4 separate regions of the Homo sapiens genome follow, and all the other regions are linked to region 4. Evidence: fine-mapped expression QTL. A gene starts in region 4. Each other region holds a variant in brackets. All regions are shown on one strand. Distances are between the middles of the regions.

What was found.
Region 1: its variant is fine-mapped to the expression of LYRM1 in whole blood (TOPMed, PIP above 0.99).
Region 2: its variant is fine-mapped to the expression of LYRM1 in whole blood (TOPMed, PIP above 0.99).
Region 3: its variant is fine-mapped to the expression of LYRM1 in whole blood (INTERVAL, PIP above 0.99).

Annotation. Positions count from the first base shown.
Region 1 is chr16:20,922,621-20,925,367 of GRCh38, forward strand. LYRM1 (LYR motif containing 1) reads left to right here. Exons shown (of 4, transcript NM_001128302.3): 4 at 1,380-2,386. The coding sequence ends at 1,496. Among named protein-coding and RNA genes, the nearest start is that of LYRM1, 23 kb to the left of the region's middle. The variant G/A (reference allele first, on the strand shown) is at 1,420.
Region 2 is chr16:20,842,029-20,844,775 of GRCh38, forward strand. REXO5 (RNA exonuclease 5) reads left to right here. Exons shown (of 20, transcript NM_030941.3): 16 at 1,906-1,998; 17 at 2,601-2,747. Among named protein-coding and RNA genes, the nearest start is that of REXO5, 37 kb to the left of the region's middle. The variant G/A (reference allele first, on the strand shown) is at 1,297.
Region 3 is chr16:20,970,046-20,972,545 of GRCh38, forward strand. The region is part of intron 51 of DNAH3 (dynein axonemal heavy chain 3); the gene reads right to left. Among named protein-coding and RNA genes, the nearest start is that of LYRM1, 71 kb to the left of the region's middle. RefSeq lists an enhancer at 977-2,176. The variant C/G (reference allele first, on the strand shown) is at 1,370.
Region 4 is chr16:20,899,627-20,902,373 of GRCh38, forward strand. It overlaps LYRM1 (LYR motif containing 1), which reads left to right and starts at 1,145. Exons shown (of 4, transcript NM_001128302.3): 1 at 1,145-1,263. It overlaps DCUN1D3 (defective in cullin neddylation 1 domain containing 3), which reads right to left and starts at 732. Exons shown (of 3, transcript NM_173475.4): 1 at 578-732. RefSeq lists enhancers at 292-341, 551-1,336, 1,337-2,122.

The DNA of each region.
Region 1 (2,747 bases), 23 kb after region 4:
CTGGGATTACAGGCCCCCGCCACCATGCCAGCTAATTTTTTGTACTTTTAGTAGATATAGGGTTTCACTATGTTGGCCAGGCTGGTCTCAAACTCCTGACTTGGTGATCCGCCCACCTCAGCTTCCCAAAGTGCTGGGATTACAGGCGTGAGCCACTGTGCCCGGCTGAAAGGAGATTTATTATAAGGAATTGGTGCATGTGATTATAGAGGCTGAGAAGTCCTAGGATTTGCCGTCTGCAAGCTGGAGACCCAGAAGAAAGCTGGTGGTATTACTCAGTTTGAGTCCACAGGCCTGAGAACCCAAGGGGCCAATGGTAGAAATCCCCAGTCTGAGGCCCAGAGAAGATGAGGTGTCCCAGCTCAAACAGGCAGGAAGCAAAAGGAGCCGCTTCCCCTTCTTCTGCCTGTTTGTTCTATTCAGGCCCTCCATGGATTGGATGATGCCCATTCACACTGGGGAGGGCCATGTGCTTTACTAAGTCCACTGATTCAAATGCTAATCTCATCCAGAAACACCCTCACAGATACACCTAGAAATGATGTTTAATCTGGGCACCCATTGCCAATCAGATTGACACAAAAATTAAGCATCCTAGGCCAGGCACGGTGGCTCATGCCTGTAATCCCAGCACTATGGGAGGCCAAGGCAGGTGGATCACTTGAGGTCAGGAATTCGAGACCAGCCTGGCTAACATGGCAAAACCCCATATCTATTAAAAATACAAAAATTAGCCGGGCGTGGTGGCGAGCACCTATAATCCCAGCTACTCGGGAGGCTGAGACAGAGAATCACTTGAACCTGGGAGGCCGAGGTTGCAGTGAACTGAGATCATGCCACTGCACTCCAGCCTGGGTGACAGAGTGAAACTGTGTCTCAAAAAAAAAAAAAAAGAAAGAAAGAAAAATTAACCATCCCAGCCATAATTTAACCAGCCCCTCTCTTGCTAGGCAGTTAGTTTGATCCCAGTTTTCTACTATGCACAGAACATCTTTATATACACACACTTTTCTCCCCTTCTTTGGATTCTCAACTTGCTATGTGATCCATGCTCGTTTTTTCTCCTCTATGCAGGCGATATAGCAAAGAGCACAGGCTCTGGAATCTGACAGATCTGGGTTCAAATCCTGGCTTCCCTTCTTAATGTATAACCTTAAGCAAGTTTTTTAACTTCTCTGAGGTTTCATTTCCTCATCTGTAAATATTAGAATAATAATCCCTTATGAGGTTGTTGTAGGATTAACTTGTGTAAAGATTAATGAATCAATGTAGATACAGCACTTAGCAGAGAATATGGTACTTTCTGAGTAGATCCTCAGTGAATATGAGCTGCTGCAATGATGATGAATATGATTCTTCATATTATTGTTCTTATTCAGATTCATCTGCCTCCAATGGGCCTTACCCCACTCCGAGGCC[G/A]GGGACTTCGAAGCCAAGAGAAACTGAGGAAACTTTCCAAACCAGTATATCTCAGATCTCATGATGAAGTTTCCTAATCTAGAGGAAAGTTTATTTCTGCAAATGATGAGCCAACTAGTTATTGAATGTAAACCAGATGGCAAAACACTTCTTGATTAGGGGCAAAAATTCAAATGTCTTCTTAAAACCTCCACAATTGATTCTCCCCCTGTGATGTAAACTTAGATATCCCTAGAGTTTCTCAGCATCTTTCTTCCTGAGTGGATGGCATTATCCCTAGAGGTCATGGACCTTACATCCTCACTGCAGTCACCTTTGGAAACAAGACCGAGGCCTGTAGAAGGAAAGCGGAAGGATGTAAGAGCTGTTCATGGGAATTCCATTCACCACACATGCCAGCTGATGCAAAGAAATTTGCCAGTCACTGGAAGTTACTGTGGCTACTATAAAACTATGTACCACTCTCAGAATATTCTTAGGCTTTTTTTTTTTCAAGTTATAGATTTGCTTAAAGTGAGGTTTTTTGGTGTGTGCTTTTTTGTTGTCTTTTGACCCTTCCAGTTTCCAGACAAACTTGTCTTAAAAAGTGCATCATTGGATTGACCATGGTTTTTCATGAAATTTTATGAGATTTCTGCCTTAACAAAATGCATATATTCCTTATCTTAAAGCCTGTCATTACTTAGGATGCACTTATAGGATCTGAAAAGCTCACTTTAAACTCATACTACATTCGTTACGAGTATTTTACGTTAACATAATTGAAAAGTACAAGGTCCAAGCTGGCTTTCAAATTATGTCTAAACAGAAATGGGACAAATAGACTTGAAAATAGAAGGGATTTATTCCACCCCTGCAAGGGTAGAGTCAGGTGAGAGTCCCTTGGTGAGTCATTTGTACATCAGTGTCATTTCTTCTTAACCTCTGAAGAAGATGGGCATCAGAAATAAAGACAAAGCACTATCAATTTTTGTCTGTCTATTCTTTTTCAAAATGGACTCCTGACCCTCAGAAGAAATAGCTGGAACCTACTCCTATGAGGAAGAGCACACGTTTTCACACTCACTCAAGGTAACTTATCACAGGGTTTGGCAATAACGTAGGGAACAAATATGATGCTGTATCAGTGGAGTAATAGTATATGTATATATATAAAATTTTTTTTTTTGAAACGGAGTTTTGCTCACATTGCCCAGGCTGGAATGCAATGGTGCAATCTCAGCTCACCGCAACCTCTGCCTCTTGGGTTCAAGCAATTCTCCTGCCTCAGCCGCTCGAGTAGCTGGGATTACAGGCATGTGCCACCATGCCTGGCTAATTTCGTATTT
Region 2 (2,747 bases), 58 kb before region 4:
TTGGTTGCGGGGGTGGCGGGTAAAATACATATAAAATAAAATGTACCTTTTTAACCATTTTTAAGTGGCATTCAGTATGTTGATATTGTGCAGCTATCATCACCATCCATCTCTAGAACTTTTTCATCATCCCGAACTGAAATTTCCTATTAAGCAATAATTTCCTATTACCCCTCCCCCCAGCCCCTGGTAATCATTGTTTTACTTTCTGTCTTTATGAATTTGACTACTCTGTGTACGTACCTCACATAAGTGGAATCATACAATATTTGTCCTTTTGTGTCTGGTTTATTTCATTTAGCATGTCTTCAAGGTTCATTCATGTTGTAGCATGTATTAGAATTTCATTTTCAAGGCAAAATAATATTCCATTTCATGTATATACCACATTTTGTTTATCCATTTGTTGATGGACATTTGGGTTGTTTCTTGTTTCTACCCTTTGTTTTGTTTGTTTTTTTTTTTTTTGAGATAGGGTCTTGCTCACCCAGGCTGGAGTTCAGTGGCGTGATCACAACTAACTACAGCCTCAACCTCCTGGGCTCGAGCAATCCTCCCACCTCAGCCTCCTGCTGGGACCACAGGCATGCACGCCTGGCTAATTTTTTGTAAGACAGGGTCTCTCTATGTTGCCCAGGCTGATCTTGAACTCCTGGACTCAAGAGATCCACCCACCTTGGCCTCCCAAAGTTCTTGGATTACAGGCGTGAGCCACTGTGCCTGACCCTGGGTTGTTTCTACCTTTGACTATCATGAATAATGCTGCTATGAACATGGTTGTACACATATCTGTTCAAGTCCCTGCTTTCAGTTCTTCTGGGTGTATACCCAGAAGTGGAATTGATGGATCAAATAGTAATTCTATGTTTAATTTTTTGAGGAACCATTATACTGTTTTCCACAGTGGCTATACCATTTTACATTCCTACCAGCAAAGAACAAAGGTTCCAACTTATCTACATCTTCACTGACACTTGTTTTCTATTTTATTTAATAGTAGCCATCCTAATGGATGTGAAATGGTATCTCATTTGGGTTTGATTTGCGTTTCCCTAATGATTAGTGATGTTGAGTGTCGCAGGCAATTTGTACATCTTTTACAGCAAAGTCTATTCACTTGTTTGCCCTTTTTTTCTTATTTATTTTTTTCAGTTCCAGCTACTCTGCAGTGTTTGCCCATTTTTAAATCAGGTTGTTTGGCTTTTTTATTGTTGAATTGTAGGATTTCTCTGTACATTCTGGATATTAATCTTTTATTAGCTATGTGATTGCAACTATTTCTCCATTCTGTGGGTT[G/A]CTTTTTGACACTGCTGTTAGTGTCCTTTGATATACAAAAGGTTTTAATTTTTATGAAGTCTAATTTGTCTATTTTTAATTTTGTTGCCTGCCTTTGATGTCATATTCAAGAAACCATTGCCAAATCCAGTGTCATGAAACTTTTCTATGGGAAGGCTTTTATCTCCATATTGATGCTATGGCTCAGATAATCACAAAGATTTAGTTACTCCGAGTTAACAAACAGAAAAGCAGACCATTTGAAGATGTAGCCTATCCAGTGGAAGAACTTATCCTTCCCAAGCTTATAAAGTTAAGCCAAAAGACAAATGGGAATCTCTGCCCGTGACTTGCAGTGATGACTTTAGTGATGCATAATAAATATTATGAAAAGCCTGTTGGGTAGTTCCATTTTAAATGACAAAGTTATTTGTTGTCTGAAAGCTAGTTTCTGAACTTTGATGATCCCATTTAAAGTTGACAGTTTACAATCAATACTTGTGTAGCCCAGCACAGTAAAGGCATCCATTCTGGTGGCTTTGGCCACTGTAGTTTGAATCCTTTCCCCAACCCCTTCTTTAGCAGTTTGAGCTGGAAAGCAATGATGAGGAAATCTTGGTCTTTCTGCAGCCTCATCTCTGTATACAGTATGAAGTCCTAGAAGCTGCCCAGCTGGCCATAGAATCCTTGGATGGTATTCTGGTAGATGGTATCTGCATCAAGGTAGGGTGACAAGAGAAAGCCCCCTTTGCTTGGGTCTGGCCTACCACAGCCTGTATTTATAGTGCCCCAGGACATATAGGAAACACTCTCAAGAGGCCCACGCACAAGACTTTGTTATGGAAAGTCTTCAGCCAAGTCTAACATTCTCCTACTGGCAGTGATTGAAGACATAACGGCTTTCATTTGTGTCAGAAATCATCCTGGGCTAGATTTGGGTCTTCCTTGCATTCTTTGTTACTACTTAAGTCCCCTGTGGTTTATTCTGGTTGGTTCTTTGTGGTTACCCTTTTCTTCACCTTTCAGGGAGATCAAATGGTGGTATTTTGAAGTTTCTTGTGCACATAAACAGAATTTCATTAAGGGTGGGAGGCAGGAAACTGAAGAGAATATGTTTACATGAAAATATGTATTTATCAATTAAGTCTCTAACATAATTCTGTGAGGCCATTATCTTTAGTTTCCTTTTACAGAAAAGAAAAGAAACGGAAAATTTTAGGAAACTGAAAAATGAAGTTATTAGTAATGGCAACAACTTGCTAGTATCCAATAGGCCTGAGGATTAAATTGATTTTCTACCACTAACACCAACTTTCCTTGGTTAGGTGCAGAGGCCTGTGACAGAGCTCACGCTTGATTGTGACACCCTCGTGAATGAGCTGGAAGGAGATTCTGAAAACCAAGGCTCTATATATCTGTCTGGAGTGAGTGAAACCTTCAAAGAACAGCTATTGCAGGAGCCCCGCCTCTTT
Region 3 (2,500 bases), 70 kb after region 4:
GCGAAGCAGAGCTCCACTCCTACATGAGGAAGAAGGAAGAGGTGCTTCCTCTTCCAGATACCCTTTAACATGGTGCCTGCCGCTGGAGCTGGACAATGGCTCTGACCGTTAACCAGCAGCCGGAACACATGCATGGCCTTTTGGGGCTGTGGTCTGGATGTCCCGAACATCTGAGCATTCAACTTATTTGCTTTTTTGGCCAGGCACAGTAGCTCATGCCTGTAATCCCAGCACTTTGGGAGGCCAACGTGGTGGATCACTTGAGGTCAGGAGTTCCAGACCAGTCTGGCCAACATGGCAAAACCCTGTCTCTACTAAAAATACAAAAATTAGCCAGGCGTGGTGGTGGGCGCTTGTAATCTCAGCTACTCAGGAGGCTGAGGTAGAAGAATTGCCTGAACTGGGGAGGCGGAGGTTGCAGTGAGCTGAGATTTTGCCATTGCACTCCAGCCTGGCCGACAAGAGTGAAATTGAAACTCTGTCTAAAAACAAAAACAAAACAAAAATCTCACATAGGCATTGTTACCACATTTGTTTCTATGCTAAAAACATAATTTAAAATTGCCCCTGAGTCTTAGCATGAAAAGAGCAATCGGATTGTTTGAGAGGTATGGAGTTCAGTGCAGTGTGACGAAATGTAATCAGATCACAGTAATTTTGGTATCATTGATCATCCTCATTAGGGGGGAAAGAAATAATTGGAAAGAATTGACCAATGTAAGCAAACCATTGCGCTTGTGAATCAAGAGTTGGTGACCTGATTCTTGCTCTTCCAGTCTTTGTCTTCCCAGTATGGATTTCTTTTCTTTTCTCTATTCTTTTTTTTTTTTTTTTTTTGAGACAGAGTCTCGCTCTATCATCCAGGCTGGACTGTAGCAGCGGTGCTATCTCGGCTCACTGCAACCTCTGCTTCCCGGGTTCAAGTGATTCTCGCACTTCAGGCTCCCGAGTAGCTGGGACTACAGGTGCCTACCACCAGGTCTGACTAATTTTTGTATTTTTAGTATAGATGGGGTTTCACCATGTTGGCCAGGCTGGTCTCGAACTCCTGACCTCAAGTGATCCGCCCGCCTCGGCCTCCCAAAGTGCTGGGATTACAAGCATGAGCCTCTGTGCTCAGCCGTACTTCTGAGTTTCTAACAAATCACTTTTTTTTTTTCTTTTTTGGTAAAGAGCAGGGAACTAACTTTGTCTCCATATAAAGAAACACTAAAATTTATGTTTCTTAAAGGCAAATTAGGATCAAACAGAAACTCCTAATATGGATTTCATTTGCATTCCTACTGTGCATTCGGTACCCTACTGGGCACTATTCCATCTTGTGTCATTTCTGGGAGTGTGAGGAGATTAGAGAAAATTAGCAACTTCT[C/G]CTGGGCAGGAGGGCCACAGCCCTGAAAGGTCCAGGAAGGGATTCCGGTCCACAAAAAAGCCTCAGGAAAGCTGCACAATCAGACACCGGTTTCTCCTCCTCCCTGGGTAGTTTCTTCCACTTCCTGACTCATCCCAGGATGTCACTCCCTGGAAGAGGGATGGGATGGCAGAGACTTGAGCCTCACCCTTTGCACCGAAACCTGATGTGGCAGTTATTGCCTGGGAGTGGGTGTAGTGGGGCGTCCTGGGTCACCGCCTTACAAACCTTGTGCGATCACTCACCTCCCTCCTGCTCCAACAAGTCGCTGTTTGGCCTGACATTACAGAGCAGAATCTTGGCTGTGCTGTTTTCCTTCCCTCTGCGACCCACATGTGGAAAGGGGCTAGCCTTGGTCACATAGGCAAGTCCCCTTGGTATAGAGCAAAGTACAGCAGTTTTGAAGAATCACTAACATAGACCCTTACGCTCTGGCACAGGCTACAAATGTTACATGTTTTCCTCTTAGTACCCCCATTTTGTAGATGAAGAAACTGAAGCTAGGAAAGGACAGAGCAAAAATTGAGCCCTGATGTACCTGATTCTAGCACAGAAACATTAAAGAGTTGCCAATTCATGCGCCTCAGGGGCCAGGCCAGTGAGTGCGAGTGGGTGGGGCTGGGACTTTGGTGAATTGGAACACACAGGGGCAGCATCTATTTAATACCGAAGATGAGTGCAACCCGGGAGGGCAGCTCCGATGTTGCCAGGTTGCCCGATGTTTTCCAAAGAAAAGCTGAAAATTCAGAATTGTTACTTGAAATCTCCTGATTTTTTTTTCTCTCTTTTTTTTTTTTTGAGATAAGATCTTACTCCGTTGTCCAGGCTAGAGTGCAGTGGTGGGATCATAGCTCACTGCAGCTCCTGGAATGAAGTGATCCTCCTGTCTCAGGCTGCTGAGTAGCTAAGACCGCAGGTGTGCTCCACTGCACCTGACCAATTTTTTTCTTTTTAGTTTTTTGCAGAGAAGAGTTTTCACTATTGTTACCTGGGCTGGTCTGAAATTCCTCCTTGCCTCAAGCCATCCTCCTGCCTCAGCCTCCCAAAGCACTGGGATTAAAGGCATGACCCATCATGGCTGGCCCATTATCA
Region 4 (2,747 bases):
GGGGGGTGTGGTGGAGGAACAAACAATACATTTGTCACCCCGTCCCACTTCCTATAGAGGATACAGGCAAAGCCTCCAGCCTCATTACCTCGGACACAGATGGTTATCGTTTATAGCAAAGGTGCACAAAAAGGCCTTCAGGTCTGAGCCCCTTAATTCCAGGGCTGTTAATGATTAAAGAGAACGATGGGGGTGGGGAGGGAAATGAGGGCGGAGGGAGCTGGGAGATTCACCCACCACCTCCCCCTAGGGCTCCTACCTCACAGCGCTCACCCAGGACAGAGGACCAGAGTCTGCACCCCCTCCAGGGCAGCTCCAACCCCATATCCCCAGGCCCTGGGTTGAGGGGTGCTGGCGGTGGGGAGGCAGGGACAGTAGGTAAGTTTTCTGAGCCCTGCGGCTGACACGCCACAGGCTCCCCTCACAGCCTCTTCTTTCAGAGGTACCACTCCAGACAACGCGCTGACTTCCACTCCTCCCTTTCCACCCCCCTTTCTCGAAGGTACCCAACCCCCGCCCCTTCATCTCTCAATGCCCCCCCGCCTTTTCCTCAACTCCCCCCCTCCCCAAAACTCACAGCTGCTCCAGAGGTTCCTCCAGTCAAACCCTTTCTGGAAACGACGGCGGCCCGGCGGGTCCAAACCACCTACCATCCCCGCTCGCGTTTCCAGGCTCCCTACCCCCGCCGCCGCCGCCTCTTCTTCCACCACTGCCACCGCCTCCTCTTCATCTGCGGCCCACCGGCGGCGGCCGCCCCGAAGCCCCGCCCCCTCCATCGCCTCCTGCATCATCACTTCCGGTAACCCCGCCGGCCGCCAGCTCCAGGAGGGAGAATGGGAGAGGGGCAAGGAGGGAACGAGTGGAAGATTGCGTCACGACGCACATAAAGACGTACGAAGCCGTCGCCAAGTAAGGGCAAAGACCTAGCAACCCGGAGGGAGCTGGGCTGGACCATTTTTTTTTCTTGTTTTACGGGAATGGAGCGGGGAGGATAATGAAAGCGTAAAGGAAAAATAGGGGGAGGAGGAGCTCAGCTTATTGTTGGATGCGGCGGGAGATGGGTAGAGTCAGTCAGTCGAGACTCCCCCAGACCTGGAACTGGTGCTCCCACAGAGGTGGGCCCGGTGGTTTGGTCCGGCCTGGCCTACTGGACCAGCCTGTGCTCGGTCGGCCACGGCTCTGCTGGGCTCCTGGCGCCGCCTCCTCCCAGCCCGCCGCGGGCTGCGCGCTTCTGTGGGTGGGGGAAGGCAGGACTGACGCAGAGTGAGTGTAGGGGATGGAGGCGCCGACTCCAGGCGCGGGAGACTGGCGGGGAAGGGGTTGGCTCCCCACGGGCAGGGATGGTTTGGAGGTTGGGCTGCGGCGTTGCCGGGAGACGGGCCTGTGTGACCCCAGCTTCGCGGGGGCGGCTCGGTGTCATCGCCACCGGCCTCGGGGACCTGCCTCACGGAAGTGGCTCGCGCGTCCAAGAGGGGAGGCCTGGTGTGGGGACGCTCAGGTGCCGGCGTGGGGCCCCCTCGGAGGCTGTGAATCTTTTGGACCCCCGAATGTAAATGGGAGATGGTAGGGGCCGGTCCGGGGGCGAGAGGTGTCTGGCTGGGGAACGTTGACCCACACCAGGTCCCGTACAGGAACGGAGACTCCCTAGGACCGTGAGAGCCAGCTTCGTAATTCTCTTGCTCTTCAAACCTGAGAGTAGGGTGTTGCTCCGTTACCTTCCATTCGTGTGCAGGAGAGAGTTAAGTAAATCAATAAAGAAGGTATCAGCAAGTGAGAAATGCCCCCCAAAGACCGGATGAGGTGACAGAAGATGGGGGGAGGGCCCCTCGAAATCGGGTAAGGTCGTTCAAAGGAGGCCACGGTTTTGCGGGGATCCGAGACAATGGGTTTTCTGGGTGGAGAGAAGAGCCAATGAGAAGGACTTTTAGGTTGGAAACAGCCAGAAGGCCATGTGGCTGAAGCAAACAGAGCCAGGGCCGGAGTGCCCTGTGATGTAGTTGGGGAAGTGGCATGACTGTAGCAGCGCCTTTTAGCCCAAGGCAGGGGTTTGGCTAATGTGTACCTTAAGGGTTTTAAGAAGGGAAGTGACCTGACCTGATTTACATTTTTAAAAATCCGCTCTGCCTGCTGGATAGAGAAGGGTGGAAGTAGTTAGACCTGTTAGGAGACTGTTGCACTGTAAGACAAAGGAGAGGTGAAGATAGTGTTGAAAGGGCCGGCCGGGCGCGGTGGCTCACGCCTATAAACCCAGTACTTTGGGAGGCCTAGGCGGGCGGATCACGAGGTCAGGAGATCGAGATCATCCTGGCCAACATGGTGAAACCCCATCTCTACTAAAAATACAAAAATCAGCTGGGCGTAGTGGCACGCGCCTGTAATCTCTGCTACTCAGGAGAATCGCTTGAACCCGGGAGGTGGAGGTTGCAGTGAGCCAAGATCGCGCCACTTCACTCCAGCCTGGGCAACGGAGTGAGACTCCGTCTTAAGAAAAAAGAAAAGGCCCTCAGTCACAGTGGAAATGGAGAGAATTCCATTCAGCATATATTTGGGAGGTAGTGCTTGCAGGACTTGCTGGGGAATTGGATGTGAAGTGTGTAGGAGAGGGAGGAACCAAGGTTAACTCCCTACGGGAAAACAGTTTAGAAAGGAATATCGAAAGTTCTCTTTTGAACATATTAAGTTTGATAAGTCTATTAACAAGTCAAATGAAGTTGTCAAGAAGTTAGATATACAAGTCGGGGAAAAAT